Linked DNA regions of Homo sapiens: region 2 is linked to region 1. Evidence: fine-mapped expression QTL. A gene starts in region 1. The other region holds a variant in brackets. All regions are shown on one strand. Distances are between the middles of the regions. Region 1 holds the start of SDR42E2 (short chain dehydrogenase/reductase family 42E, member 2). Region 2 overlaps VWA3A (von Willebrand factor A domain containing 3A).

Region 1 (16,301 bases):
AAAACTAGTCAGAGGAAGTGGTATAGCTAGAGCCCCAAGACACCCATGATCTTAAACTTTGTGCTTTAATTCCTGCATATTTGTGTCTTCTGGGGTTCAATTCATTGAAATACAGACATTCAAGTTATCTGTTAAGCAATAGATCTGGCAAAGTCATAGGTTATCTATTAAGTAATAAGTCTAGTAAAGTCATAGATTTCAATGATCCACTTCTGACTTAATAGGAAAATTCTGCACTTATTTATACCTTTTAGGAATGCAATGTTGTCAGTGATAACATTCCCAGCGCAACAAATTATCAAGTAAGACAACCAATCAGAATTCCAGATTTCTTTTCAGAGGTTAAAGGTTACTTTCACAGGACATGGCATAATTTTTTTTTTTTTTTTTTTGAGACAGGGTCTCATTCTGTTGCCCAGGCTAGAGTGCAGAGGAACAATCACAGCTCACCACAGCCTCCACCTCCTGGGCTCAGGCAATCTTTCCACCTCAGCCTGCAGAGTAGCTGGGATCACAGGTGTGCCACCACGCCCAGCTAATTTCTTTAATTTTTTGTAGAAACAGGATCTCACCATGTTGCCCAGGCTGATCTCAAACTCCTAGGATTAAGTAATCCTCCCGCCTGAGCTTCCCAAAGTGTTGGGATTACAGGTGTGAACCGTCAGGCTCGGCTGGCATAATCTTTGAAGCCTGGGTAGCCTTACATGACTCCTTTGGTTCAACTAGCTCTTCTAGGGACAAGTATTATAAATAATACAGAGAACTGAACAAATTGGTAAAAGTAATGAATATTCACCCAAGCGTCCTTATTACACAGGAAAACAAGTGATGATATGTTTAAGGCTCTCAGCTTAATTCCTTATCCAATCAGATTCTCTGAATTGTTTTTGCATGCAGAATGGGATTGCTGTGCTACTACTGCCAGGCAGAAGGGATGGCTTCCTCTTTTTTCTTTTTCTTTTTTTTTTTTTTTTTTTTTTTTGAGATGAAGTCTTGCTGTGTCACCAGGCTGGAGTGCAGTGGCATGATCTCAGCTCACTTCAGCCTCTGCCTCCTGGGTTCAAGTGATTCTCATGTCTCAGCCTCCCGAGTAGCTAGGATTACAGGTGCCTGCCACCACACCCAGCTAATTTTTATATTTTTAGTAGAGATGAGGTTTCATCATGTTGGCCAGGCTGGTCTCAAACTCCTGACTTCAAGTGATCCACCCGCCTCAGCCACCCAAAGCGCTGGGATTGGTAAGATGTATTTTTAAGGATAGGTGGCGAAATTTTATTAGTTAACATTTTTTTTAAAAAGCATGCCTCAGCCGGGCGCGGTGGCTCACGCCTGTAATCCCAGCACTTTGGGACGCCGAGGCGGGTGGATCATGAGGTCAGGAGATCGAGACCATCCTGGCTAACAAGGTGAAACCCCGTCTCTACTAAAAATACAAAAAATTAGCCGGGCGCGGTGGCGGGCGCCTGTAGTCCCAGCTGCTCGGGAGGCTGAGGCAGGAGAATGGCGTGAACCCGGGAAGCGGAGCTTGCAGTGAGCCGAGATTGCGCCACTGCAGTCCGCAGTCCGGCCTGGGCGACAGAGCGAGACTCCGTCTCAAAAAAAAAAAAAAAAAAAAAAAAAAAAAAAAAAAAAGCATGCCTCAGCCAGGTGTGGTGGCACATGCCTGTGGTCCTAGCTACTTGGGAGGCTGAAGTGGGAGGATAGCTTGAGCCCAGGAGGTCGAGGCTACAGTGAGCCGTGATCACGCCACTGCCCTGCAGCCAGGACAACAGAGCAAGGCTCTGTCTCTAAAATCAACCAAATAAAAAGCATACCTGTAAGTCTACTTCACTAGAAGAAATGCAAAAAATGGCTGAACAGATTCTACTGAATAGCGCTGAGATAAGGAAACGGTGTCATTTCTGTTCCACTGGACCAGAGTGGGGCCACTTTCACTCAGATTCTGACACCATCGTACTTTGCCACCGTCCCCTCCCTACACTGACTCTCAGACACCATATTTCAAAGTTTCCCCTTTGCAGAATGACTGTCTTGATAGGTAGTGAGCTTCCTGACCCTGGAGATATACAAGCAGAGGCTCACAAGATTTCCTGCACTGGATGGAAACCAGAACGTGATTAGCTCTAAAATGCTTTTCCTGAGATTTTGGATTTTCAGCTCCCATCCAGTCATAAACTTCACACTCATTTCCTCTTTTCAAGGATCCCACATTGCCACCATTTGAAGGAGATGATTTAAGGATCCTGGCCCAGGAGATCACCAAGGCCAGAAGCTTCCTCTGGCAGGCCCAATCCTTCAGGTATGCCCTTCACGCAGCCTCTCCGGCCTGCCATGTGGCTACAGCCCATGCAGACCCCGGACCCCATCGAGAAGGGCCGCACCCATGATGGTACCCTTGCTCCAAGGGTTCCTGCCCTGCTTCTCCCAGCCAGCCCAGAAATCTGGGCACCAGGGAGACCATCTTTCTTCATCTCCTGCCCACCAGATCCCAACTCCAGAAGAAAAATGATGCAGAACCAAAGGTCACTCTTTCCTAGAGAAGTGTTCTCAGGTAAGGGGAGGGGCTAGACCCCATACTACCTGAGTGTGCACTAAGCACCAAGTGGCATGCTCTATTTTGTGGTCAATAATAACTTTGGTTAAAAAATAATGATTCCTCTAAACAGAAAAGTCATCCTGCAAAGGACCACTCACTGAGCAAATCTCAGCCCCGAGGGCAGGATGGGATGAAATGCTGTGACCTGCAGGAAACATGATTCCTGGTACCAGGACTCTCTGGAAGCTGAGGAAGGAAAGACTTTGTCTTTTGTGTGAGGGGCCATTCCCGGGTCTTAATCTAACTCTCCAGCCCTGTCCCGCAGCGCACTCTACTCTCCAGCCACTAGATTGTCCCTCTCTGGGAAGCCCTAAACCAACCCCCTGCCTAAATGGTGGTGCTTCTTGCAAACCAACCCCCTGCCTGAACGGTGCTTCTTGCCCCCTCTGCCTGGAGACTCCTGCTCATCCATCAAGGCACAGCTCAAATGACATCAGCTCCCTGGGACCTATCTAGAGCGAGGGGCCTCCAGTCTTTCTCTTGCAGCATCCTGACCACGCAGACCTCTCGCACTCAGCACTCTATGTCACGCCACCTTGCTCGCTGATCTAACTCTTCTCCTTGATGGTGAGCTCCTTCGGGATGAGACTGGTGTCCCAGGATCTGCAGGTCCCCAGAAGCTGCCACATAGGAGACACATGGTGAACAGTGAGCAGGCGGCTGAGCTGTGAGAGCCTAGCTCTGGAAAGCAGCTGATGGGGTGGTCTCCACCCTGGTTCATAAGAGGCTAATGCAGAGTCACAGTCAGCCCATCCTGGGGGAAGAAGAAACAAGTGAGCCTCAGCACCACCCTCCATCCCTGCCCAACCAAACTGAAGTGAAGGCTGCTCATCTGGGTTCATTTTCTAAAATTAAAAACAATTAATTTTATTCTACTAATAGGATCAACATGACTTTAACTGTTTGAAGTGATCATTGGCGTGTGTGTGTGTGCATAAATTTTTAGTGACATAAAACTTTATTAAAAGACTCATACCATAATAAAGAATTTCAATAAGAAAAAGATAAACATCCATTTTTTTGTTTTTTTTGGAAACAGAGTCTCGCTCTGTTGCCCAGGCTGGAGTGCAGTGGTGCAATCTCGGCTCACTGCAACCTCCGCCTCCTGGGTTCAAGCAATTCTCCTGCCTCAGCCTCCTGAGCAGCTGGGACTACAGGGGCCTGCCACCACGTCTGGCTAATTTTTGTTTTAGTAGAGACAGGGTTTCATTATGTTGGCCAGGCTGGTCTTGAACTCCTGATCTCAGGGGATCTGCCCGCCTTGGCCTCTCAAAGTGCTGGGATTATAGGCGTGAGCCACTGTGCCTGGCCCATCTCAATTTTTTTTTTTTTTTTAGGCACAGTCTCACTCTTTTTGCCCAGGCTGGAGTGCAGTGGCACGATCTCAGCTCACTGCAACCTCCGCCTCCCAGGTTCAAGCGATTCTCCTGCCTCAGCCTCCCGAGTAGGGTAGCTGGGATTACAGGTGCCTGCCACCACGCCCAGCTAATTTTTTTTATTTTTATTTTTAGTGGAGACGGGGTTTCACCATGTTGGCCAGGCTGGTCTCAAACGCCTGACCTCAGGTGATCCGGCCCGACTGAGACTCCCAAAGTGCTGGGATTACAGGCATGAGTCACCGCGTCCAGCCCATCCAATTTTTAAAATGGACAATAGGTACATGAAAAGGTGCTCAACAGCCTTACCTGCCAGGGAAGTGTAAATTAAAACCACAGTGAGATGCCACTACACTCCCACTAGAATGGCTAAAATAAAAAAGACTGGGGTTGGGCACAGTGGCTCATGCCTCTAATCCCAACACTTTGCGAGGCTGAGATGGGAGGATTGCTTGATGCCAGGGGTTCAACACCAGCCTGGGCAACATAGCAAGACCCCATGTCTCCAAAAATTTAAAAGAAATTAGCCAGGCATGGTGGCCCAATGCATGTAGTTTTAGCTGCTCAGGAGGCTGAGGCATGAGGATCAGTTGAGCCCAGGAGTTTGAGACTACAGTTAGCTATGATTGTGCCATTGCACTCCAGCGTGGGCAACAGAGTAAGACCCTGTCTCTTAAAAACAAACAAACAAAAAGACAAGATGGCCAGGCATGGTGGCTCACACCTGTAATCCCAGCACTTTGGGAGGCCAAGGTGGGCGGATCACATGAAGTCAGAAGTTTGAGACCAGCATGGCCAACATAGTGAAACCCCGTCTCTACTAAAAACAACAAAAATTAGCTGGGCATGGTGGTGCACACCTGTAATTCCAGCTACTCAGGAGGCTGAGGCATGAGAATCGCTTGAACCCAGGAGGTGGAGATTGCAATGAGCTGAGACTGGGCCATTGCACTCCAGCCTGGGCAACAGAATGAGACCCTGTCTCTAAAAACAGAACAAAAAAAGAACTACAATATCAAGATGTGGAACAGTTGGAACACTCATATTCCAATTAGGGTAGGGGTTGGGGTAGGGACGTATAATTTGACTCAATAACTTTGGAAGACTATTTGGCAATTTCTACTAAAGTAAAACATATGCCTACTCTATGATCTAGTAATTCCACTCCAAGGGTAATGAGTGCATATGTTAGACAAAAGACATATAAGAATTTTTCCAGCAGCCTTATTCATTAGAGCTCAAAATTGGAAACTACCCAATGTCCATCAGTGGCAGAATGTGCAAATAAAATCTGATACATTTTACAGTGAAATATTATGCATCAATTTAAAAAGAATGAACGGCTCATGTGGTGGCTCACACCTGAAATCCCAGCACTTTGGGAGACCAAGGCAGGTAGATGGCTTGAGCCCAGGAGTTTGAGACTAGCCTAGGTAACATGGTGAGAACCCATCTTTACAAAAAAATACAAAAATTAGCCAGGCTTGGAGGCATATGCCTGTAGTGCCAGCTACTCAGGAGGCTGAGGTGCAAGGATCACCTGAGCCCAGGAGAGGTTGAGGCTGCAGTGAGCCTTGATCATGCCACTATACTCCAGCCTTGGCAATAGAGTGAGACCCTGCCTGCACCCCCAAAAAAGAATGATCTATACAGCTATATTCAACAAGATGCATCAGTCTCATAATATTGGGCAAAAGAAACCAGACACAAAGGAGTACATACTGTATAAAGTCATTTATATGAAGTTCAAGAACCAGCCAAACTCCTTATTGGTGATTGAAGTCAAAATACTAGTTACCCTGTGGGATGGGGGACACAAAGGGGACATCTGGTGTGATGAAAATATTCTATATATTGATAAAGGTAGGAGTTACATTGAGCTATACATAAGTAAAAATTCATCAAGTTGTTTAAAAACACTCAGTTGTGGCCAGGTGCGGTGGTTCACGCCTGTAATCCCAGCACTTAGGGAGACCAAGGCAGGCAGATGGCTCAAGGCCAGGAGTTCGAGACCAGCCTGGCCAACATGGAGAAACCCTGTCTCTACCAAAAATACAAAAATTAGCCAGGCATGGTGGTGGACGCCTGTAGTCCCAGCTACTCGGAGGCTGAGGCAGGAGAATCGCTTGAACCCGGGAGGTGGAGGTTGCAGTGAGCTGAGATCGTGCCACTGCACTCCAGCCTGGCAACAGAGACTCTGTCTCAAAAAAAACGAAACTCACTTGCTAAGGCTTGATGAGACCCTGCTTTGGCCAGGCTCTGTGCTGGGCCCAGGAAGGCAGTGGTGACCACAACCCCTGCCATGGTAAATCTCAGTCTGGTCCATCTTGCACAGCTGCCATTTTGGGTCACGTCTGTAAATACAGAGAAAAGGGCCTGTGGTGGTTGTATTCATTTGCTAGAGCTGTCATAACAAAGTACCACAAATTGAGTGGATGAAACAACAGAAATGTATTCTCTTATTGTTCTGGAAGCTGGAAATTCAAGATTAAGATGCCCTCAGGGCCATGCTCCCTCTGAAGACACTGGGAAGGATCCGTTCCAGACTTCTCTCCTCCATTCTGGTAGTTCCTTGGCTTTGGGCAGCATAACTACAGCCTTCACATGAAGCTCTGCCTATGTGCATGTCTCTGTTCAAATTTCCCCTCTTTATAAGAACACCAATCATACTGGAGTAGGGGCCCACCCTACTCCACTATGACCTTAACTCATTACATCTGCAGTGACTTTATTTGGAGAGTTAGGGTTAAGTACATGGGATTGGGACTTCCACATATGAATTTTGTGAAGAACACAATTCAACCCGTCACAGATGTAAGTTATGCTTCTCTTTGCAAGACAATATCAGCAGCTGGTACTGGGGAATATGAGTTCTCTGGCCCTGTTGGTGGGAGAAGAATAGGCTGGCCTTTGTGAATGGAAGGTTGAACCAAACACATGGCTTATGAAGTGGGGAAGGACAGGACCTAGGTTCAAATCCCAACCTCCCATGTAATGAGGAGAACAGCTACCATTGTTTGCACACTGATTGAGCCAGCACCATGCTCAACATTTTGCATAGAGCATGTTAGCCATAAACCTCACAGCATGACAACTATAAAGTGCACATCATTTGCAGTTTACAGATGAGGAAACTGAGCCTCGTAGCTGCTCAAAGACACACAGCAAGAAAGTGGCAAAGCCAAGATTTAAATCCAGGACTGACCCTATGGCTTTTCCCCACCACATTTGGAGCCCCTTTTCTGAACCTGTTTCCCTGTCTCTAAAATTGAGCTAAAACAGAGTTGTGAGGATTAAACAAGATCTCTTACCATCTGGCTCATAGAACATGCAGACTAAGATTTTGTTTTTCTCTTCCCCACACCTATGCCCACAGAGGGTGTTGTATGGGTGGAGGCTTTTTCAGTTGCCCTTTTCAGAGCAAAGTGACCAGCCCTTCCTGCTCTCAGCCCCTGTGGCTCCATTACAGCAGTTGTGAGCTCTTGGGCACATGCCTGACCCTCCAATACTGCCACTTGAACATGAGTTTTCTTTTACTGAGACAGGATCTCACTCCATTGCCTGAGCTCTCCAGCATGAGACTGCAGTGGCACAATCACAGCCCACCATAGCCTCCACCTCCCAGGCTCAGGTGATCCTCCTGCCTCAGCCTCCCAAGTAGCTGGGACTACAGGCACATGCCACCATGCCCGGCTAATTTTTTTTTGTAATTTTTTGTAGAGATGGGCTCTCACTATGTTGTCCAGGCTGGTCTTAAATGCCTAGGCTCAAGTGATCTGCCCACCCCAGCCTCCCAAAGTGCTGGGATTACAGGCATGAGCCACCACACCCAGCTGAACATGAGTTTTCAAAGGATGATATGATCCAGCACTGAAGAAGCACCCATCAAAATAGAATGATGTGATTGATGCATAAATCAACAGAGATAAGTGGAAGATTGCAAGACAGGGAGAGTAGATAGATGGGTAGAAGCAAGGAAAGAAAGATATATGTAATGAATTAGATGGGTGGAAGGTTGGATGGATGGAAATTTGGATGGATAGGTGGAAGGATAGATGATGGAAGGTTGGATGGACAGGTTTAAGAATGGATGGATGACAGGTTGTATGGATAGGTTGAAATACAGATGGATGGAAAGGACAGGTTGAAATAAAGATGGATGGAAAGCTGGATGGACAGGTAGAAGTACAGATGGATGGAAGGTTGGATGGATAAGCAGAAGGATGGTCAGGGAGAAGATTGGATGGATAAGTGGAAGGATGGATGATGGAAGGTTAGATGGATAGGTGGAAGGCTGGATGGATAGGTGGAAGGCTGGATGGATGGAAGGTTGGATGGATAGGTGGAAGGATGGATGGATGGAAGGTTGGATGGATAGGTGGAAGGATGGATGGATGGAAGGATGGATGGATAGGTGGAAGGATGGATGATGGAAGAACTTTTTTGGTTTTTTGTTTTTGTTTAAATATTTGCAAATCATTTATCTGATGAAGGATTTGTATCCAGAATATACAAAGAACTCTTAAAAGTCAACAAATAACTCAACTGAAAATGAGCAAAGGATTTGAACAGACACTTCTCCAAAGAAAACACATTAATGTGCCAATGAGCACATGAAAACATGTTCAGCAGCATTAGCTATCAGGAAATTCAAATGAAACCACAATGAGACACCACTTCACACCCAGTAGAATAGTTAAAATTTTAAACATAGATATAATAATAAGTGTTGGTAAGGATGCGGAAGTATTGGAACCCTATACACTGCTGGTAGGATTGTAAAATGGTACAGCTACTTTAGAAAACAGTTTGGCGGTTCTTCTCTAAACACAGAGTAATCATATGACCCAGCAATTCTGCTCCTACATATAGATGAAACCCTTTTTCTTGGGGTTCTAGGACGACTTGGCCTGCAGGACAGAGCCCGGCACGCAGGGCCTTTGCGTCTTTTCCCACAAGAAGCGTGGACCATTTCGCCCATCCCAGCCCTACTGGCTTCAGTTTCCCCTCTATGAGAGCCCGCGGGTCTCCACCTGAGAGAATGCAGGTGCTCCCGCGCCGGGAGTGGGCGGGCAGAAGAGCGGGCGGGGGGCGGTCCGGATGCCTCGTCCCGCCCCGCCCCGCCCCTTTCTGCCCTCCTCGGGAGAAGGAGGTGGCCCGGTGGCCCTGGCGGCGCGGAGACTGGCGCAGCGCGGGGAGCACGCAGCGCCGCGGGAGCCCGGGCCAGGTGAGCGAAGCCCGGACGCGGGCCAGGGAGGGACGCAGGTGCTGGAGGGACAGGGAGGGTGAGGGAGCCAAGAGGGGAGGGGACCCCCACCCTGGAGCTGCCCGCGAGCCCAGCGCTCTCAGGGTCAGTCCCTGATGCTCCCCACCCTTTTGCCAGTTCCTTCCACCAAACCCGCTTTTGGGGTCCCCATCGACCTGGATTCCGGCGGAGACACTGTCTGTGACTCCATCAAAGTTTCCTCATGTTCTCTGGGCCTCAGTTTCCACCTCTGGGTAATGGGAACCATAGCCTGTACTTCACTGAACTTCCAAAAGAATGAGTGAAGCCATGTCCAGGGTGGGTCTGGCGCGCGACCATAGCACAGCCAGATCCCGAACACGCCCCAGAGATTTTGTTCACCCAGCAGCATTTGCTGGCCGCCTGCTTTGCGCCAGGCACTGTTCTAGGTGCTGGGACACTCCAGGGAATGAAATCCTCCTGGAGCTTTGCAATCTAGCCTCGCAAGGCATTCTGGCGTCTGTTTTCTCATGACCACCCTGTGAGGAGCCAGAGCAGCCAGAAATATTTGGGTCCATTCGCGGTTGTGGGTACTAAGGTACAGTGAGGTTTTAAGGCCCTTACCCAAGGGCACACCCCAATAAGTGAGTATCCAAGGCTGAGTCCAGCCTTTGCCACAAAAGGCATCCTCTTAGGGTAGAAAGTCAGCTCTGGTCCCATAGACCCTTCCCCAGAACAGAGTCCTCTGGGCCTGAGTACAGGAGGAGGGCTCGCTGTGGGGCTGCATCCTCTCCTCTCCCTCTCGGGGATTTAGGCCCCTGCTCATGATGGTTTGCAGTCTCTCTCATTAAATCCATGAGTGGGCTGGGCGCAGTGGCTCACGCCTGTAATCCCAGCACTTTGGGAGGCTGAGGGTGGCAGATCACTTGAGACCAGGAGTTTGAGACCAGCCTGGCCAAAATGGTGAAACCCCCGTCTCTACTAAAAATACAAAAATTAACCAGGTGTGGTGGCGCGTGCCTGTAGTCCCAGCTACTCGGGAGGCTGAGGGAGGAGAATTGCTTGAACAAGGCAGGCGGAGGTTGCAGTGAGCCAAGATCACACCACTGCACTCCAGCCTGAGCAACAGAGTGAGACTCCTTCTCTAAATAAATAAATAAAGCCATGAGTGTTCGTGCTTATACGGGGCAGGACTGTATTCCTCACCCAGACATTTGGTGAGCAGGGCAGTAACAGAGGAAATTAAAAATACAGCCCCTCTAGCTGCCAGAGTCCCTGCCCTGTGACCACCACCAGCAAAAAAACATGGGGCTCATCAGTCCAGTCACTCAACAAATACCCGTTCTTTCATGCAGCCAGTATATGCCATGCAGGGCAGAGATGCACCTATCTGTATATGTAGGGCCTGGCGCACAGAGGTCCCTAGCACATGGTTGCTGTTGTTACGGTTAATGATCACCTAGCCCTGGTCATCCAGCCTCATCCTCAGGTGGAGAGGGAGGTCGGGAGGGGGGTGGGGGGATGGACGATGGTGACAGTGACTGACAGCCTGGCTTGCCCTGAGTCTAGACTGAGGGCTGGGCACAGTGGCTAACGCCTGTAATCTCAACACTTTGGGAGGCCAAGGCAGGAGAATTGCTTGAGTTCCAGGAGTTCACTACTAGCCTGGGCAACAGAGTGAGACTCTGTCTCAAAAATTAAAAAAAGATCTAGGGAGCTGGATGCGGTGGCTCACACCTGTAATCCCAGCACTTTGGGAGGCTGAGGTGGGAGGATCACTTGAGGTCAGGAGTTCAAGACCAGCCTGGCCAACATGGTGAAACCCCATCTCTACTAAAAATGCAAAAATTCACCAGGCATGGTAGCATGCACCTGTATTCCCAGCTGCTTGTGGGGCTAAGATGGAAGGATCGCTTGAGCACAGAAGTTTGAAGCTGCAGTGAGCTATGATTGTGCCACTGCACTCCAGCCTGGGCGACAGAGAAAAGAAAGTAGTCTGAGGCTGCAAAGAACAGGATCCTCAGTGCTGTCCCCCTAGGCCCATAGACCAGACCCTAAAGCCTGCAGAGGGATTGGGCAGAACGTGTGGTACCAGCCACCCACACTACTGTCGGACCTTGGAGGACCAGAGGCGTCAGGCATCAGGGTGGAGACAGGCACAGCACTTGGAGTCATGTGCAAGTTTCCAGGGTGCAGAGTCCTTTTGGATCCATGTGGATTCTCCTCCTCCTCCTCTTTCTCTTCCTCCTCTTCCAGAAGGCTCTCCCAATCTCCCCAGTCAGAAAGCAGCCACCTCCCAGTCTGGTGAGGTTCCCGCTGGATGATTTGCCCTGTCTTCCTTTGGTACTCCATGGAAACTGGAATTTTAAGGAACTGGTAGATAAGTCAGGAATGCTTAATGTCAACCTCAGTTACACAGCGTGACTTTGGGCCTCAATTTTCTTAGCTCTAAAATCCAAGTCTTGGCTGCCTTGTCTCTGACTCTGTGCAGAGGACAGCAGCCACACTGGAGTTTTTTGTTTGTTTGTTTGTTTGTTTGTTTTTGAGACTGAGTCTCATTCTATTGCCCAGACTGGGGTGCAGTGGCACCATCTCAGCTCACTGCAACCTCCGCCTTCCAGGTTCAAGCAATTCTTGTGCTTCAGTCTCCTGAGTAGCTGGGATTACAGGTGTGCCCCACTACACCCGGCTAATTTTTGTATTTTCAGTAGAGACAGGATTTCACCATGTTGGCCATGCTGATCTCCAACTCCTGGCCTCAAGTGATCCGCCCACCTCAGCCTCCCAAACTGCTGGGATTACAGACGTGAACCACCACGCCGGGCCCACACTGGAGATTCTTGAGATTCTGAAAGGGGCAGGTTCCCTGGGAACTCAGAGAATTTCTAATTTCCACCTGGAGTTCCCCTCAGTCCTAGAGGTCTAATAATTTATGTGACTTGAAACGATTCTAGAGCATTCTTTCTTCTATTTTTTTTCCCACAGGTGGTCGGTTTCTGGGTCTGCATGGCTCAGTAGAGGATGAAGTCCAACCCCCCACGCTCCTCCCTAGAGGCCTGCAAAGCTGCAGGCCAGGGTGAGAAGAGCTGCCCTGTCTGCCAGGCCTGTGGAGAGGTCTCAGGTCCAAGGTCTGGCTCAGGGTCTGAGTCAAGGCCTGCACCAAAGCCTGGTGCCATTCCAGGGCCTGGACTGGGGCCCAAAGCTATTCCAGGACCTCAGGCGGGTTCTGGTACTGTTCCGAGGCCTGGTGCTATTTCAGGGACTGGACCAGGTCTAGGGCCTGGGCCAGGAGCTGGGTCTGTACCTGGGCCAGGAGCTGGGTCCGTACCTGGTCTAGGAGCTAGGTCCGTACCTGGGCCAGGAGCTGGGTCCGTACCTGGGCCAGGAGCTGGGTCCGTACCTGGGCCAGGAGCTGGGTCTGTACCTGGACCAGGAGCTGGGTCGGGACCTGGTCTAGGAGGTGGGTTGGGACCTGGTGTAGGAGCTGGGCCAGGAGCTGGGTCTGTACCTGGGCCGGGAGCTGGATCGGTACCTGGGCCGGGAGCTGGATCGGTACCTGGGCCGGGAGCTGGATCAGTACCTGGGGCAGGAGCTGGGTCTACACCTGAGCCAGAGCTAGGGCCTGGGCTCAGACAGGGGTCTGGGACTGGGCCCAGACCCAGTGAGTCAACAACAACCCCAACACCAGCGCCGCAGCAGAAGACTCAAGCCAAACCTACAAAGGCTGCCAGGCAGAAGGTTCTAGTGACTGGAGGAGGAGGCTACCTGGGCTTCAGCCTGGGATCCCACCTAGCCAAGAGCGGCACTTCCGTCATTCTGCTTGACCGCCGCAGACCCCAGTGGGAACTGTCCCCGGAAACCAAGTTCATCCAGGTACAAGGAACAAGGGTCTTAATAGACTGGGGCAGTGGTGATGGTCAGGGGACAGTGTTTGATGTGAAACCTGTGGTGTGGAGTTTAGGGGCACACTGTTTGAAGCCAGACTGTTTGAGCTATAGCTCTGGCTCTGGTGCTACCAGCTGGGTAGCTATGGTCACAGAAAGGGGACAATAGTAACCAACACCTACTTCACAGGGTCTCATTGGGAGTTGATGAGACAGTGCACATAAACCTAGCACAGCCCCTGTCACCTACAGAGCGTGATGAATGAGCACGGGATGTTGCTCACGGTGCCCTGTAGAATCATTTAGTGAATCCTGCCCCACCAGCCTTTCCTGATGCTACAGAGGCTTGGCCTGGGCTGGGTCAGGGGGCCAGTTCTGAGACCAGGCAAGGTGCAGAGGTGTTATCTCTTGCCTTGGACTTGAACCCCCTGCCCTCATCTCTTCTTCCTCTGGTGCAGGCTGATGTCCGAGATGAAGAAGCCCTGTACCGTGCCTTCGAAGGGGTGGACTGTGTCTTCCACGTGGCTTCCTATGGAATGTCCGGGGCTGAGAAGGTGGGCTCCTCACACACAACACCTGGAGTTAGACAGAGTGGGGTTCCAGTCCTGGCTCTGCCCTCACACCCATGCATTCCCTATCATGCTTCACCTATTATAGGAGGGACTTGGGCTACTCCCACCCTGCATCCTGCATCCATGACACCAAATACCAGTTCTGCCATTTTTTTTTTTTTTTTTTTTTTTTTTTTTTTTTTTTTTGAGACTGAGTCTCACTCTGTCACCCAGGCTGGAGTGCAGTGGCACAATCTCAGCTCACTGCAACTTCCATCTCCCAGGTTCAAGTGGTTCTTCTGCCTCAGCCTCCTGAGTAGCTGGGATTACAGGTGCCACCAACACGCCCAGCTAATTTTTGTATTTTTAGTAGAAACAGGGTTTCACCATGTTGGCCAGGCTGGTCTCAAGCTCCTGACCTCAGGTGATCTGCCCGCCTTGGCCTCCCAAAGTGCTGGGATTACAGGCAGGAGCCACCGCACCCGGCCCCATTTCTGCCATTTTATAACTGTGTTATCTAGGGCAAGTTTATTTAACCTCTTTGATCCTCTTTCATCATCTGGAAAGTGAGGATATTACTATTGGTAATATCACAACCTCTTCAGAGAGCAATGTAATAGTATCCACCAAAACATATGTATACCCGTTGCCTCAGAAATTACACTCATTTGTGTATTTGCAGCATTGTTTTTAATAACAAAACACCAGAAATAACCTATCAGTTGAGGACTATTTAAATAAATTGTGTTTTACAGTCAAATTCTATGCAGCCATTCAAAAGAAAGAGGTAACTCAAAGTGTGCAGATTAAAAAAATAGTTTCCAAGGTGCAAAGCAGTGTTTGGCATTCTCCTGTTTGTTTCCAAAAAAAGCTAAAGAAACTATTTATTTCTATAGTCACACATGCTTATATGCTGATATTAATAAGAATAGATTATCTCGAGAAACACCGGAAATTTAACAGTGGCTGCCTCTGGGGAGGGAAAAGGAAGATTTGGAATCAGGAGTAGGAGGGAACCTTCTTTTTCACTATACACCCATTTTACTGTTTGAATTCTTTTTAACCTTGATCGTGTTGCCTATGAAACAAAAACAGCCACAACAAGAATAAATATAGAGCCAGGTGTGGTGGCTCACACCTGTAATCCCAGCACTTTGGGAGGCCAAGGTGGGAGGATTGCTTGAGCCCAGGAGTTCGAGACCAGCCTGGGCAACATAGTGAGACCCCTATCTCTATTTAAAAATAATAAAAGTAAATTTTATTATTTTTATTTATTTATTTATTTTTGAGACGGAGTTTCGCTCAGTCACCAAGGCTGGTGTGCAGTGATATGATCTCAGCTCACTGCAGCCTCCACCTCCCAGGCTCAAGCGATTCTTCTGCCTCAGACTCCTGAGTAGCTAAGATTACAGTTGCACGCCACCACACCTGGCTAATTTTTGTATTTTTAGTAGAGATGGGGTTTTGCCATGTTGCTCAAGCTGGTCTCAAACTCCTGACCTGAAGTGATCCGCCCACCTCGGCCTCCCAAAGTGCTGGGATTACAGGCATGAGATACCACACCTGGCCAAAAATTTTTAAAAGAATAAATATAGGCTGGAAGCAGTGGCTCATGCCTGTACCCCCAACATTTGGAGAGGCCAAGGCAGGTGGATCACCTGAGGTCAGGAGTTTGAGACCATCCTGACCAACATGATGAAACCCCATCTCTACTAAATACAAAAACATTAGCCAGGCATGGTGGTGCATGCCTGTAATCCCAGCTACTTGGGAGGCTGAGGCAGGAGAATCATTCAAACCCGGGAGGCAGAGGTTGCAGTGAGCCAAGATTGTACCACTACACTCCACCTTGGACAACAAGAGCTAAACTCGGTCTCAAAAAAATAATAATAATAAATATAGCTTAAAAATAAGCATGGAGCTCATCTCCTGGTGTGATGAGAATTAAATGAGATCATGGATCAGGAAGTTCTTGCCCTGTTCCTGGCCCACAGGAGCCCTCACAGCGGCCTAATTTTTGTTTTTCACATCCCAGCTCCCTCGTGAGGGCCCAGCCCATATTACCATGTTCACCTTACAGATAGGGAAACTGAGGCTTTGAGAGTAGGAAAATGACCCAACAGGTTCTGAGCCCATCTTCTGTGCCAGGCACTGTACCAGGTCCTCTCAAGTGTCTTATTGAGTCCCGCCCACCACCCAGGGGAGGAGGTTGGCCCTCACTTTACAAATGAGGTTGCTGAGGGACAGATGTGTGGGCAGAACCTCCTCTGGCCACCCAGGAAGATGGTGGCAGAGCCAGGCACCCACACTCCAGGTGGGCCTTCGGGATCCCTGCCTCTGAACTGAACATCCTGCTGCCCTGTCCCACCTGACCCCAAGCTCAGCCTTCCAGCCTCAGCAAGAAGGCATGGGTAGCACCATGACTTTCTCACCTGTCTTGTCTTTTAGCTGCAGAAAGAGCAGATTGAGTCTATAAATGTTGGAGGCACCAAACTAGTGATTGATGGTAGGTGCTCAGAGCCGGGTATGACCTGCTGTGCCTCTCCCCCTCTCTCCCTTCTCCTGCTGCAGGCCTGGCTCCCAGGGTGTAGGGTCAAAGGGAGGGCCTGTGGGCAGCGCATCCTTCGTGCACTGCAGACCTCCCCAGGGCCCTGCATGGGTGTGTCAGTG
Region 2 (16,301 bases), 21 kb before region 1:
TGGCCAGGCTGGGCTGCCCAGAGCCCCACAGCTTCAAGGCCCTCAGCTGCTGGCCCCTCCTACCTTCTCTTCCCCACCAGCCTACACTCAGTGCCTACATGGCTGAGGCCTGTGGCGGCTGCGACCTCCAGCTGAACGTGTGTCTCTTCTACGTGGGCGAGCCAAAGATGGACACCACACCCCCTGCCCGCTATGCCAGTCACACTGACACAGCCGCCGCCTACAAGGAGGTCACCCGGGCTGCAGGTGGCCGCTTCCACTGGTTTGGAGACACAGGTACATGACTGTTTCCTCATCCCTTCAGCTCATTCCAAACAGTTGTCTCAGCACCAGCATAGCTCCCTTAGACCACAGATGTATTCCAGAAAAGCAGCTTGTGAAAATCACATTTTAAAATGTAAAACTGTTCCTCTGAAGATAGATAGCAGTGATGGTTGAACAACAATGTGAATGCACTTAATGCCACTGAATTGTACAATTTTAAGTGATTGAAATAGTAAGTTTGATGTTATGTATATTTTACTGCAATTTTTTTAACTTAAAAGAAGTAGGCCAGGAACAGTGGCTCATACCCACAATCCCAGCAGTTTGAGAGGCCAACGTGGTCAGATCGCTTGAGATCAGGACTTTGAGAACAGCCTGGCCAACATGGTGAAACTCTATTAAAAATACAAAAAAATTAGCCGGGTGTGATGGCACATACCTGTAGTCCCAGCTACTCGGGAGGCTGAGGTACAAGAAAATCGCTTGAACCCAGGAAGCGGAGGTTGCAGTGAGCAGAGATCACACCACTACACTCCAGCCTGGGTGACAGAGCAAAACTCTGTCTCAAAAAAAAAAAAAAAAAAAGAAGAAGAAGAAGTAAAACTCTAAAAGTATATTATGAGTCAGGTGGTGGCTCACACCTGTAATCTCAGCACTTTGGAAAGTTGAGGCGAGCGGATTGCTTGAATCCAGTTCAAGACCATCCTGGGCAACATAGCAAGATTCTGCCTTTACAAAAAAATTAAAAATTAAAAAATATATAATTTAGAATGTCATAGAATGTCAGAGCTAGAAGGCACCCTGAACATCCCTTAGATTGTTTTTCAAAGGGTGGTGTGTTCACAGCACATGGTTGGCAAGATAGTTGTACATGGTACAAAAAGCAACATTTTTTTTAGAGACGGGGTCTCCCTCTGTCACCCAGGCTGGAGTGCAGTGGTGCCATCATACTTCACTGCAGCCTCAACCTCCTGGATTCAAGCAATCCTCCCACCCCAGCCTCCTGAGCAGCTGGGACTACAGGTGTCCACCACCACGCCCAGTTAATTTTTTAAATTTTTTTTTATAGAGAAGGGGTCTCACTATATTGCCCAGGCTGGTGTTGAACTCCCAACCTCAAGCAATCCTCCCTCCTCAGCCTCCCAAATGCTGGGATTACAGGAGTAAGCCACCATTCCCAGCCCTCAAGTCACCTCCAGGTGGCTTTCTAGTATCCAGATGATGGGGACGCTTGCCAGGATCCACACCCTGTCTCACCTTGCTCACGATGTGCTTTGTTTCCAGGCATTTATGAGAGCGATGACATCAACTCCATCATGTCTGAGATGGAAAAGGCTCTCAACTACTCCCAAAAGGTATGCCCTGGGCATGGGCCAATGACTGCACTGCCTTTTGTATTCATTTCCTGGGGCTACCATAACTGCCACAAACTGGGTGGCTTAAAATAACAACCATTGATTCTCTCACTTCCAGAGGCTGGAAGTCTGAAATCAAGGTGTCAGCAGGGCCAGGCTCCCTCTGAAGGCTTTGGGTAGAATCTTTCCTTGCCCCTCCCTGGCTTCTGGTGGCAATTGGTGTTTGTTTGTTTGTTTGTTTGTTTGTTTGTTTTTAATTGCACTGGTTGCTCTTTTAAAATGGCAAGGAAGACTTTACTTAAGACTATTGCAATAGGGGAGAGAGACTGAACTCAACTCTAAATAATAGCAAAGATAGCTGGAGATTTATAGCCAATGAGCAGTCAGTGGATGGAAAAATTACTAAGAGAACTGGATAGATAGGATAGATAAAAGGATTCTTGTTAAACAGGGCTCTTGCTAAAGGCAGACCAAAGGCTTAGATGTCAAAAATAGAACTGGGCACAGTGGATCCCACCTGTAATCCCAGCACTTTGGGAGGCCAAGGTGGGCTGATCGCTGGAGCCCAGGAGTTTGAGACCAGCCTCAGCAACACGGTGAAACCCTATCTCTGTTAAAGAATTTTTTTAAAATAATTTTTTTAAAAAAGGTATCTCAGATGGGAGATGAAGAACTTGCTTGGATATCAAGGATGGGACAGGTCTCACTAAACTGACTTAGCAAAATTCTTTGCCAAAACTGAGTTCGGCAGGCCAAGGTCAAGGCCTCATTGAGAAGATGGCTTAGAGGAGCCGGCTAAAGTTCGGTCAAGGAGGCAGTCCTTGTCACCAGCAATCTCTGGCATTCCTTGGCTTGAGGAGCATAACTCCAGTCTCTGCCTCTGTCTTTACATGGCTGTTTTCCCTCCAGGTGCATCCCTTCTCCTCTTACATGGACAACAATCAGATTAGATTAAGGACCTGCGCTACTCCAATATGCCTCACCGTAATTTGTATCTTAATTACATCTGCAAAGACCCTATTTCTATGTAAGGCCACATGCACAGGTCCTGAGGGTTCAGACTTCAACATATCCTTTTGGGGGACACACCTCATCCCATGTCAGCTTCCCTCTTCATGTCCTAATCCACTGAGACCCAAGGCTTCAGAAGAAATGAGTGTCTCCTAGAAGCCATTGGTTTTAGGTCTGTGTGCTGCACATTCTGGCCTCCTTTGAGTTCCTTAAACACGTCAAGGTTATTGCTAAACCCATTCCTAAGCTCAGGGCCTTTGCACCTGCTGTTTCCTCTGTCCTTCCCATCCCAGACCTTTCATGGCTTGCTCCTTATCATTAGTTAGGGTTTTGTTTTTTGTTTTTTGGGGGTTTTTTTGAGACAGAGTCTCACTCTGTCGCCCAGGCTGGAGTGCCATTGTGCAATCTCAGCTCACTGCAACCTCTGCCTCCTGAGTTCAAGCAATTCTCCTGTCTCAGCCTCCCAAGTAGCTGGGGCTACAGGCACCCGCCACCACGCCTGACTGATTTTTGTGTTTTTTAGTAGAGATGGGGTTTCACCATGTTGGCCAGGCTGGTCTCAAACTCCTGATCTCAGCTGATCTGCCTGCCTCAGCCTCCCAAAGTGCTGGGATCACAGGCGGGAGCCACCACACCTAGCCTATTAGTTAGTTTAGACACACTAAAATGTTACTTCCTCAGAGGAGTTGAGCAGGACAAGATACAATGAGAGAGGTAGCTAGGAGCCAGATCCCGTGAGGAGCAATGACTATCTAAGGAAGAATTCCCCGGACTTGCAAGTGATTGAACGGGCAGTGTGAAAGAGAAAACATACAAACTGACCCCCACGCTCCTCACTGGAGCACCCAGTAGACAGTGAGGCCATTGACCAAGATGTAGAAAACAGGAGGAAGAGCCCATGGAAGGACGGAGAGGTGCAGGGAAGGCGGGTCTGGGACAAGGGTGAGTTTGTGGAGCCTGTGAGATAACAAGTGAGGGTACCCTACAGGCAGGTGGGAAAAGACATGGCTGGAGATGGAGATTTAGGGCAGTTCAAGCCACAGTGACGGACAGAGGGCACTTAGCAAGGCTGTGGTCGAGGCAGTGGAGTGGAGGAGCCTGTGAAGGAGACTCCTGGACTCCACCACTTGCAGAAGGACTCACTTCCCAGACTGGATTGTGGACTCCTGGGAGGGCAGGGCCACGTCTCCATCTTCTATTCCTCTGTGGCCACTGGATCTGCAGATCTGTGGCTCCCCCTGCGTGCCTGTGCTGTCTTCCCCAAAAGGGACCCTTTTGGTGCTTTTAAAATATCTCTTCCCAGCTGGGCGTAGTGGCTCATGCCTGTAATCCCAGCATTTTGGGAGGCTGAGGCAGGCAGATCACAAGGTCAGGAGATCGAGACCATCCTGGCTAACATGGTGAAACCCCGTCTCTACTAAAAATACACACACACACACACACACGCACACACACACACACACACACACGCAAAATTAGCTGGGTGTGGTGGTGCGCACCTGTAATCCCAGCTATTTGGGAGGCTGAGGCAGGAGAATCCTTGAACCCGGGAGGCAGAGATTGCAGTGAGCCAAGATCATGCCACTGCACTCCAGCCTGGCAACAGAGTAAGACTCTGTCTCTAAATAAATAAATAAATAAATAAATAAATAAGTAAGTAAATAAATAAATATCCCTTACCCTCAGGTGCACATAGTCCCATTCCCTCATCAGATAAACTGATACATATGGTGTTAATGGGCAATGACCGCATAATTCACCTTTCCAGAGGATGCTTATTTACATTTGAATGGTGTCTTCTGGAGCTTTGATTGAGAATAATTGCTGGGGAACCAGTCAGGCTGTTGAGAAAATCGTAGGCAAAAGGCATTGAGTATTACACCATTAGTCTGCCAGCATCTGGAATCAGCCCTGGCATGCGGCAAGCTGACTGGCCCACAAGTGGAGGCCACAGTGTCTCATAATGGAAGGGTGCTGGCTTTGGAAACAGACCCACCTGGTTTGAATTGAAGTTTCTCTACACACTGATAAGGTGGTCTTAGATGAGAACCTTAAGCTCACAGAGCTGTAACTGTAATAGATCTGTGGCCAGATATGCATGGCAAGTCAATGCACAGAGACACTGGGTTGCAGCAGAGAAAAGAAGTTTAATTATAGGACTGCCAAACAAGGAGATGGGAGGGAACCTCAAATTTGGTGTTAAGGTTTTTAAGGGTTTTGCAGTGGGCTGAAGTATGGAGATCACTGACTAGTTGAGTGCAGGCTGGAGTCATGGGCAGGGGAGATGAAGAAGCTGTGTTCTCATGCTGTTCCTGTTCCTCTGGGGGTCTTCAAACTGTTGGCATCAGCTGCTTTGCTGGAATTCGGGTCTGAAAAACATCTTAAGCAATTCTTAAACAAAAGCCTTGTGATTCTGAAGTCAGAAATCCTATCTAGAGGAACAACGGGGATGCAAACAGCCAGGATCTGGTGCTATGTGACTTTAGGTTACAAAGAAGTGGGGCTATGTGCAGCCTGATCAGGGCTTCATGATAACTAGATTTTTGTCCAGAATTCTTGTTAACTCTGTGATGACAGCTTCAGAGCTTTGGTTTCCTCATCTGTAAAATGGGGAGACGACACACCTACCCTATCGGCATAGCTGATGTGACTTGTTGGCATGAGGGTTGGAGACCCCCAAGTATTCACTAGCCCAGAGCCTGTGCCTCCCAGGCCCCCATACCTGGTCTTACTGTTGTTCATAGGATTGGTCCATAGCACTTTCAGCCCCAGGTGGCTTTCTAGGGACAAAAAGAGGAGTCCAGGGGACATCAGAGGTTCCAGTGGATACAGTCCCTCCTGCTGTGTGTGTGTGTGTGTGTGTGTCCACAGTGGCTGGGGGTGCCACTGACCCTCCCAATCCCACTGCAGTGTGCCTTCCTCATGGCCTCCCTGAAGAACCATTCAGGAAAAGTACTGGGAAGTTCAGCCCTCCCGAAAGAAAAACCAAAGACACTTCAGCTAAGAAGTCAGCCCAAGAAGCTCTGCCCTCCCAGGCCCACCGTCCCCCTGGGGGCCAGAATGGTTTGACTCCCCTCCTAATAACACGCAGAAGATTTGGTTTCCTGTTTGTCTTCTGGTCTTTCCTGGGTCTTAAAATGGCTGGGGCCAGCAGGGATGGGGGTGGGTGCTTCAGTGGTGAGTGTCCTGTGGGTGCCTCTTGCCCAGGCCTCCAGGGGGAAAATCTCCCGCGGGGGGCCGGCTCCTCAGCTCTCGGGGTCCTCTGTCCTCCCCCAACCCACCCTTGGCTCTGTCAGCCTATCCCAGCCTTTTCCCTACCCTGGTACTGAGGATGCCACAGAATTGACACCCACCTGTTTCATCTGATGGCTTATCCTGGAGAGTCTCTCGGGGGCAAAGGAATTATGGTCTCTAAGGGCTCTTCCCGCTGCCACCCAAGACTTTGCAGAGGCTGATAGGAGCCTGAG[G/C]GTGGGCTGAGCCTGCTAGGGGCTTATCCTCATTCACAGCCTATCAATTCTGTCCTCCATAAAATACCCACCCACCTTGGCAATCAGAAGGGCTCTAGAGGACAGACCCCAGAGGCACCTGTGCTTGTGAGCAGACTGGGAGGGACACCTGTGAGTCCCTCAGCATTGCATGACTCAGACCCTGTGAGCACAGCCCATGTTCAGAATGTGGAAATCCATCCCAGACAGTAGGTAGCAGATTTCCAGCCAAAGGGCTGCCTTTCCAGGAGAGCCTGTGCAGCCGGGTTCTGCCCTCGTTCGGGGAACTCTGCCAGGTTTCAGGAGCCAGCTCAGGCACTTCGCCCCCTCCTCAGAGGCTGCCTCTTGAGCCTTCAGTGCTTCCTGAGTGCCTCCTGAAACCAGGCCGGGTGCTCCCCAGACAGTGACTGTTTAATGACCGCCACACTCCAGTCGTGGCTGAGAATGAAGGAACTCTTCCCTTAAAACTGAGGTGTCTGGGCCAGGTGCAGTGGCTCACACCTGTAATCCCAGCACTTTGGGAGGCCAAGGCAGGCGGATCATGAGGTCAAGAGATCAAGACCATCCTGGCCAACATGGTGAAACCCCCTCTCTATTAAAAATACAGAAATTAGCCGGGTGTGGTGGCGGGTGCCTGTAATCCCAGCTACTCGGGAAGCTGAGACAGGGAGAATTGCTTGAACCTGGGAGGCAGAGTTTGCAGTGAGTCGAGATCACGCCGCTGCACTCCAGCCTGGGTGACAGAGCCAGACTCCATCTCAAAAAAGAAAACAAACAAACAAAAAAAAACTGAGGTGCCTGATAAGGCACAGAAGTTACCTAAATTTCTGTTGTCATGCTGGAGGCCCAGACATCCCAGTCCATTAGGAAGAGGGGCAGGTGACTGATGAAAAAAATTCTGGCAAACCCCCATAGCTCTCTCACTAGCAGCTCTCTCACTCTCATCTCACACACACACACATGCATACATACACATATGCACATGCACACACATACATATACACTCCTACACACATGTACACACCCATACTTTTTCACCTCAAAACCCAGAGTCCCTTCTGAATCTGCTGCAGGAGAGGGGCCAAACCTGTCTGAGGAGTCCCCTCCCTTAGGCTCCTCCCTACAAAAGTTCCTGATTGACAAATTGAGGTCAGGGTAACTGGGATCCTGCGTGACACAGGGAACACTCCTCTGATGGGAAAGATTGCCTGTTTTCTAGAGCATTAAAGATGACCCTGACAGAGAGAAGAGCCCCCCGCTGAAATCTCTGAAATGGCGTCCACTCAGTAGCAGAGTTGGCATCTCACCAGGTAAGGCACCATCACGGTCAGGCAGGGTGGAGGGATGTCACGGTCACGGCTGAGGCATGGGTTAATAATGATAGTAACTAGAGCCACGTGTGGAAGCTCGTGCCTATAATCCCAGCACTTTTGGAGGCTGAGGTGGAAGGATCACTTGAGGTCAGGAGTTCAAGACAAGCCTTGACAACATAGCAAGACTCCATCTCTACCAAACAAAAAAGGAGCCAGATGTGGTGGTGCATGCCTGAAGTCCCCCAAGTACTCAGAGGCTGAGTTGGGAGGATTGCTTGAGCCCAGAAGTTCGAAGCTGCAGTGAGCTATCATTGCACCACTGCACTCTAACCTCAGTGACAGAGCAAGACCCTGTCTCTACTTTTTTTTTTTTTTTTTTTTGAGACAGAGTCTCGCTCTGTCACCCAGGCTGGAGTGCAGTCGTGTCATCTCAGCTCACTGCAACCTCCACCTCCTGGGTTCAAGCGATTCTTGTGCCTCAGCCTCCTGAATAGCTGGGACTACAGGTGTGTGCCACCACGCCTGGCTAACTTTTTGTATTTTTAGTAGAGACGGGGTTTCACCATGTTGCCCAGGCTGGTCTACAACTCCTGAGCTCAGGCAATTCATCTGCCTCGGCCTCCCAAAGTGCTGAGATTACAGGCGTGAGCCACCACGCCTGGCCACATCTCTTAAAATAATAATCATAATAGCAATAATGATAGTAACTAAAACGATCAATGATCCTGAGTCTTGATCATGTGCCAGCCCATCTGCTAAGATTGTCCCATTTAAAGCCTATAATGATCAATCCTTTGCATCTGTATTCTATCAGCTTCCTATTGTACTGACAAAGGAACTGAGGCTCAGGGGGGTAAGGATCATGTGCCACTAGTGGTAACAGGCCTTCACAATCTTAATGAAAGTACTCAGCTCGTAGAACCTAAGACCATGTATTTTATTTCTAATGTCAAAGGTATGGCAGAGTGGCTCAGAGCAGAGTTCTGGAGTCAGCAGGACCAGGTAGAATCATGCCCTGCCTCTTACTGGTGGATTCCCACTTACCTTATCTGTAAACTGGGGGACTGTGAGGATGAAGCAAGGCAGCATACTCAAAGCACTTAGCACAATGCCAGGGAAAGATCTGGACTCAGTAAATGGTAGCTATAGCTATTTCTGATCCAAGCAAAGCCAGAGACCTGGCGGGGGAGGACACAGGGTGCCTTGAAGCCATCTTGGAGCCCCATTTCCTGGGGTGGAGTATAGCTGAACTTGAGTGTCTCTAAGCCAAGCTGGACAGCTGTATTGCAAGAATGCATGCAGCTGCTCCAGCCAACAAGCCAAATGTTCCTCAGCTGCGGCCCAGCCAACGAAAGAAGGGATGATGGAACTGAGGAGGAAGACCAAGTCAAGGGAAGCAGAGACATCTCTTTTACTGTTCTACACAGAGAAAGGGAATGACGTGGGTAAGTTAGAGGCTATACAGGTGTCTGGACAGCCCCCTGGCCCTGGGGGAGCTGTAAGGGCAGCAGGTACCGTGGGAAGGAGACCCCTCCTGCTGTCCCAGGACCTAGGCACTGGTGCCTCTGGAGCAAGCCGTACTCAACTCAGTTCTCCCAGCCCTGGGAAATGGACATGCAAAGTTTTGACAACAACCAGGGAATGAGAGAAGTCAATATTGAAGATGAGACCTCCTGAGATTCTTGGGCACTCCAGCTCTGTCCACTAGGGGCAGTTTCCTTAGCTCTAAGGCAGATGGCAAGGGATGGAGATGATTCCCCTAGGCCAGCCTGATTCACTGCTGTGAAATGGTGCAGATCCCAAGAACAATTCATTGCTAGGCAGGAGGTCCCAAACAGCCTTTCCCCATCCACCCAACAGCTCCCTTTCTACCTCTCAGCAAATTGCACTAAGGACTTTTACAACTGACTTGATTGACAGAGAAATTGACATGAAAAAGGGAGCAGTGGGAGATTCAGGGGGAGGGAAGAGAGGTACACAGGGTGACCATCTTAGTTCATTTGTGCTTGGAATACCCAAGGCTAGGTGATTTATGAAGAAAATAGGTTTTTTTAGCTCAGGCTTATGCTGGCTGGAAGTTTGGGCATCTGGTGAGAGCTTCAGGCTGCTTCCACTCATGGTGGAAGGCGCTGGGGAGCTGGCATGTGCAGAGATCACATGGAGAGAGAGGAAACAAGAAAATGGGGAGGTGCCAGGCTTTTATTTAACAGCCAGCCCTTGCGGCAAGTAATAGAGGGAGAACTTACTCGCTCCCCACCCTCTCACCAGAGAGAGCATTGATCTATTCATGAGGGATCCGTTCCCATGACCCAAACACCTCCCATTAAGCCCCATCTCCAACACTGGGGATCACATTTCATGAGGTTTGCAGGGGCTCAACCATCCAAACTATAGCAATGACCTCACTCTGCTTCTTCTAGGCTCAGTGTACAAGAAGTACCCTCAAGGAAGGGGCTTGAGAAGGACTAGCTCTTCTATTGACTTACCCAGAAAGGATACAGTTTGCTCAAGCCAAGAGGTATTAAGTCACCCATACTAGCACATGCCCATTAAGCAATAGAGTAGTTCTGTCCACCAACCATTACTTCTAGGATGGGGGGGCATAATCAGAAATGAGAACAAGCCAGGCACAGTGACTCACACCTGTAATCCCAGCACTTTGGGAGGCTGAGGTGGGTGGATCACTTGAGGTCAGGAGTTCGAGACCACCTGGCCAACATGGTGAAACCCCATCTCTACTAAAAGTACAAAAATTAGCCAGGTGCAGTGGCACGCACCTGTACTCCCAGCTACTTGGGAGGCTACATCATGAGAATCACTTGAAACTGGGAGGTGGAGGTTGCAGTGAGCCAAGATTGTGCCGCTGCACTCCAGCCTGGGTGACAGAGCAAGACTCTGTCTCAAAAAAAAAAAAAAAAAGGACAAACCTGATAAGAACAATTGCTTACTGTGGCAGATGGGATAAGGGTTAAATAGACCTAAATTCAAAATCTAGGTCTGCCACTTCCTGCCTGGGTGACCTTGGGCAAATCACCTAGCTATACTCAATCTCACTGCCTTTGTAAAATAAGGACAATTGTGCCAGTCAAATAAGATTGATGTGAAGATTCTTTAAAGTGAAATCAACAGAAATCCCACTTCTTGTGCATAAGGGGATAGTTGTCCCACAGCTATTCAATAAAAGCCTGAGCATGGTTCTGATTGTGCCGATGGCAGATGCCATCCCTGGCTGCTTTGAGCCTGCCCATTCTTGTGTCCCTCATTGTGACAAGGAGACTGAGATTATCCTAATTGGCTTAGAGTCTAAGCTTTAGACCAATCAGGGCTTTCCACTCAAATATTGTAGGTGGGGTGCTCACTTCAGCAGCACATATACTAAAAAATGTTGTAGGTGGGGTTGAAATGGATGTTAGGGAAGTAACAGTGTCCACTAGACTAGGGTCTGGGAGGTGCGCGATAGATTTTGTTCTTCACCCCCACTATTTCTTTCTTTCTTTCTTTCTTTTTTTTTTTTTTTGAGACAGAGTTTCACTCTTGTTGCCCAGGCTGGAGTGCAGTAGCACTATCACTGCAACCTCCGCCTCCTGGGTTCAAACGATTCTCCTGCCTCAGCCTCCCAAGTAGCTGGGATTACAGGCATGCACCACCACTCCTGGCTAATTTTTTGTATTTAGTAGAGATGGGGTTTCACCATGTTGGCCAGGCTGTTCTCAAACTCCTGACCTCAGGAGTTTGAGAACCACCGCTGTCAGCCTCCCAAAGTGCTAGGATTACAGGCATGAGCCACCGCGTCCAGCCTGCACCCCCATATTTCTTGTGCATTTCTCCCCCAAAGCCAGGGAAGGAATCTGCATGGGATGGATGCTCTGTGAGGACCTGGGAATCCCACATTTCAAACATCATACAGGTTTCAAACATGAGGTTCTCATAGACCAGTCAGATGATCATTCAGTTGAGTCTGAATTGCCTAAGATAATAGTTCTTTCCTTTATTCTAAAGTGGGTGGCAAAATATGGGCTCAAAAAATTGAAGCTGGAGATTTCCAGATGCATGGGTCCCAACTGCACTCATCAAAAGTCAGGACAGAGGTCAGCATCCGCCAAACACTGCAGCATCTTCCCCAGCGTTGAGATCCATGTAAGTCACAATTTTCATCATCGTCTTTTTTTTCTCCCCCAACTCAGCTGCAAATGGCAGAGAGCAGTGTAGGGCACTGTGGCCTCTATTTCTGCTTGTAGGAACTGCCCTCCTCCCCAAAGTGGGACTCCCCTCACCAAATAGGAGATGCAAAATCCTGTTGGAAGAAAAGCCAACTTCCCAGAGGGCCTAAGATCCCATTCCAGGGTTAGATGAGCTCATTGGAATAAGAATTATAAACAATTGCCGAGGCCAGGTGCGGTGACTCCTGCCTGTAATACCAAGTGCTTTAGGAGGCTGAGGTGGGAGGATTGCTTGAGCCCAAGAGTTTGAGACCAGCCTGGGCAACATAGCAAGACCCCATCTCTGAAAAAAAATTAGATTAGCCAGGTGCAGCTGTGTGCCTGTAGTCCGAGCTACTTGGGAGGCTGAGGCGGGAGGATTAGTTGAGTCATGGAGTTCAAGGCTGCAGTGAGCCGTGATCACGCCACTGCACTCCAGCCTGGGCCATGGGGCAGGAGCCTGACTCTTAAAACATAAAAAGGAAAAGATAGGAAAAATAGCAATTGCTGAGAAGATTGGGCCGTGGCTGAAGTGTTCACCCATAAGAATGCTGTACCCCAATACTGATGATGGTTCTGTTATGGCAGCAAATAGGGGTTGTGATAGGAAGTGAAGGGTTCTCTTTTCTATTTTCTAATTTTGGGGTGATTTTTTATTGCTTTGACACTGGAACAAGTAAATTTAGTACAGAATGAAAATCTGATCATTTCTCTCCTTGCCCTCTTATCCTACATTGTCAAGATTAGGGGAAACTAAAAATAGCCACAAAATTCAAAATTATTCACTAGAGGAATATAGGGTCATTCTAGCATGTTGCCCCTCTCCACCTGAAGTCATCTTTCAGTTCAAAATTTATGAACTTCTTACCCCACCATTTAGAGTTTTCTATTTTAAAATTTAGAGATTATTGGCCAGACGCAGTGGCTCATGCCTGTAGTCCCAGAACTTTGGGAGGCCAAGGCGGGCGGATCACCTGAGGTCAGGAGTTCGAGACCACCCTGGCCAACACAGTGAAACCCCGTCTCTACTGTAAATACAAAAATTAGCCAGGCATGGTGCTGTGCACCTGTAATCCCAGCTACTCAGGAGGCTGAGGCAGGAAAATCGCTTGAACCCGGGAGGCAGAGGCTGAAGTGAGCCGAGATCGCACCACTGCACTACACAGCCTGGGCAACCGACTGAGACTCTGTCTCAAAAAAAAAAAAAAATCAGAAATTATTATGATTTTTATTAATATAGCAACTGCATTTACCAAAAAAAAAATCTTAATTCCCTACTCCTTTGTAGAACCATAAATCCACTAGTTTAATAGAAGAAAAAAAGGCTTTAAACAAAAAAAAAAAATACACTTAACAGATGGTTGTTTTTTGTGGGTTTTTGTTTGTTTGTTGAGACAGGATCTTGCTCTGTCATCCAGGCAGGAGTGCAGTGGTGCAATCACAGCTCACTGCAGCCTCTACCTCCCTGGGCTCAGGCAATCCTCCCACCTCAGCCTCCCCCAAGCAGCTGGGACCACAGACACATGCCACCACACCAGCTAAATTTTCTGTTTTTGGTAGAGATGAGGTCTCCCTATGTTACCCAGGCTGGTCTTGATCTCTTGGGCTCAAGCGATCCTCCTGCCTCGGCCTCCCAAAGCGCTGGGATTACAGGCATGAGCCACCGTGCCCAGCCAACAAATATTTTGAGAATTGTTAACCACAATGGAATAAACAATTTTAGGGGGTGATGGGGATATGAAGAAATGACTGATGGGGTGGGTGCTTGCCTCTGCTTGCCTTAACCCAGGGAGTGGTGAGACACATCCAGTGGACGCCCAGGGAGATGGAGGTGTACATCAGGCACTTGGAGAAGGTGTTAAGGCGCTATGTCCAGAGGCTGCAGTGGCTGCTGTCCGGTGAGCCTGCCCACTGCCCTGAAGGGTGGAGGAGCATGAGGGGATGTAGAAGGCTAGCCCCAGGGACCCCAGTGTCAGTCCTTCCAAAGCCAGGCCTTCAAGAACTGCAGATCAGAGGATTAGGCCAGGAACATCATCCACATACAACATGACACTGGGAGGCCGGGCGTGGTGGCTCATGCCTGTAATCTCTGCACTTTGGGAGGCCAAGGTGGGTGGATCACCAGTCAGTAGTTCGAAACCAGCCTGGCCAACATGATGAAACCCGTCTCTACTAAAAATACAAAAAATTAGCCAGGCATGGTGGCGGGCACCTGTAATCCCAGCTACTCAGGAGGCTGAGGCAGGAAAATCGCAGAGGTTGCAGTGAGCTGAGATCGCGCCACTGCACTCCATCCTGGGCAACAAGAGTGAAACTCTATCCAAAAAAAAAAAAAATGACAGTGGGTTCAGAGGACAGGCAAGGGGCTGGATAACAGGGAGGTGGAACATGGGCCAAAGAGCCCCAGCGGGAGCTCACACGCATCCCAGCCTGCTCTGCAAGGCCACCTGCCACACCTTGCCTTCCTGCAAGTGACAAGGGGCTCACTGTCAAAAGGTTTGCTTTAATATTGACTGCGCCCCAGCAAAACAGCCCCTGGAGATGCAGATGGTAAGGGGAACTGACAGAGCAGAAACCCTCTGTTTTGTTTTGTTTTAGAAACAGGGTCTTTCTCTGTCACCTAGTCTGGAGTCCAGTGGTGCAGTCATGGCTTACTGCAGCCTTGAACTGGGCACAAGCAATCCTCCCACCTCAACCTTGCAAGGACCTGAGACTACAGGCACGTGCCACCATGCCCAGCTTACTTTATTTATTTTTTTTAGATACAGAGTCTTTCTATGTTGCACAGGCTGGCCCCGAACTCCTAGGCTCAAGCTATCCTCCTGCCTCAGCCTCCCAAAGTCCTGGGGTTATAGGTGTGAGCTACTGTGTACCTCTTTACAGAGAGCACCAAGTCCCCTCCAGGAGAGGTGAATGGACAGGGTTGGGCTGTGGATTAAGAGACGGTCTGGAAGCATCAAGCCCAAGAAGACAGGCAGACAGCTAGAACTGGACAGGAGGGGATTCGGGCTATGGGGCCTGGAGGGTTTCTGGGGCATCAGGAGGAGGGAGGAAGGGAGTCCTATATAGAGATCCTACAGGTGGCTTTGTACGTGCCACTCAGGGTCCTGTGTAAATTCATTAGGTCCAGTCCTCTGCAGTAGGACCTGGTATAGACAGTCCATGGACAGGGGCGTCATGATGACTGCTGCTTCAGGTACAGTTGTCAGGTCAGAGGCTGAGCTGGGACAGAGAAGGCGTGAGCCTCTCTCCACCCTCGGTTCACATTACCCCTGGGAACGGTGACATAAAACCAGAGATCCAGCGATTTCTTTTGTAGTATGAATCCCCCAGCTCACATACCAGTACACACCCAAACACCATCTAATATTTTAAAACAATGTCATGGTACTATTTAATCCAATCACTTAACTTTAAGGATAAGGAAATTCAAGCCCAGGAGGTTATAACCGCTTGTGCAACTCATCACAGACAAAGCCAGAGCTGAAATCTCGATCTCCCAAAGCCCAAACCACTGACCAGGTCTGTCCTTGGACAATCGACCCCTCCCACAGCACCACAAAAGCCGTCTCTCAGTGGGGTGACATCCAATCAATGATCAGGCAGGCAACAGGTGTCACAAGACTTTATACTTGATAGATAGAGTGAGGGAAACCACCCAGGAGGAGGGACCCCTCACTCCCTCCCTGCCTCTTCCCCACCTGTCTCGGAGCAGGGAGCCGCCGACTGTTTGGCACCGTTTTGGAGAGCAAAGTATGCATATTGCTGGACACGTCAGGGTCCATGGGCCCCTACCTGCAGCAGGTGAAGACAGAGCTGGTTTTGCTGATTTGGGAACAGCTGCGGAAGTGCTGTGACAGGTAGGAGGCGAGGGCTGATCAGGAAGATCAAAGGGGCAGTTCCTGGGGCTTCCCTGGCCAAGCACGCCCCCTCTTCTCAGTGCCAACAGGCCTGGAGTTTCTGAGATGCTCTTCTGAGTAACGCGTTTGAGTAGGAAAGAGCACTGTATTCTGCTCTGCTGTGAAGGAAATCAGTTTTTAGAGGCCGGGTATGGTGGCTCATACCTGTAATCCCAGCAATTTTGGGGGCCAAGGCAGGAGGATCACTTGAGCTCAGGAATTCAAGACCAGTCTCAGCAACAAAGTGTCATCCCATCTCTTCAAAACATTTAAAAATTAGCTGGGTATGGTGGTGTGCACCTGTAGCCCCAACTACTTGGGAGGCTGAGAAGGGAGGATCACTTGAGCCCAGGAGGTTGAGGCTGCAGTGAGCTATGATTGCACCAGTGCACTCCTGCCTGGGCAACAGAGTAAGACCCTGTCTCAAAAAAAAAAGGAACGCAATTTTTAAAAATTAATTTCAGGCCTAGGGACAATTGCAAGCACAGCAAAGGAACTACCATGTGGCCTTGAAGTATGGCTTTCAGCTGAACTTGATTTGTTTTAAATTATTTAATGATTTAATTTTTTTAATTTTTGTGAACTTGATTTTTGAGTGGAGGAAGTTGTTTATTTTCCCCATCCAGAAGGGTTGACCCGAAGGGGACCCCAGGGGACTCTCATCGTAGACTAGGCCTCGTTCTTGCCTTAATCAGAGTATACATTTATTGAGCACTTTCTGTGCACCAGATGCTTTACACGCATCATTTCATCAACTCTCACAATGAGCCCGTGA

The links. PIP is the estimated chance that this variant, and not a neighbour inherited with it, causes the effect.
Region 2: its variant is the best candidate, but not a certain one, in a credible set for the expression of SDR42E2 in hippocampus (GTEx, PIP 0.79).

What each region holds. Positions count from the first base shown.
Region 1 is chr16:22,153,366-22,169,666 of GRCh38, forward strand. SDR42E2 (short chain dehydrogenase/reductase family 42E, member 2) reads left to right here and starts at 9,141. Exons shown (of 13, transcript NM_001394319.2): 1 at 9,141-9,199; 2 at 12,182-12,272; 3 at 12,885-13,069; 4 at 13,539-13,634; 5 at 16,080-16,137. The coding sequence starts at 12,218. It overlaps VWA3A (von Willebrand factor A domain containing 3A), which reads left to right. Exons shown (of 34, transcript NM_173615.5): 32 at 2,202-2,299; 33 at 2,486-2,551; 34 at 2,667-3,599. The coding sequence ends at 2,537.
Region 2 is chr16:22,132,820-22,149,120 of GRCh38, forward strand. VWA3A (von Willebrand factor A domain containing 3A) reads left to right here. Exons shown (of 34, transcript NM_173615.5): 20 at 81-276; 21 at 1,549-1,619; 22 at 5,541-5,693; 23 at 7,335-7,425; 24 at 8,763-8,873; 25 at 9,849-9,946; 26 at 11,428-11,565; 27 at 13,417-13,525; 28 at 15,343-15,487. Among named protein-coding and RNA genes, the nearest start is that of SDR42E2, 22 kb to the right of the region's middle. The variant G/C (reference allele first, on the strand shown) is at 6,098.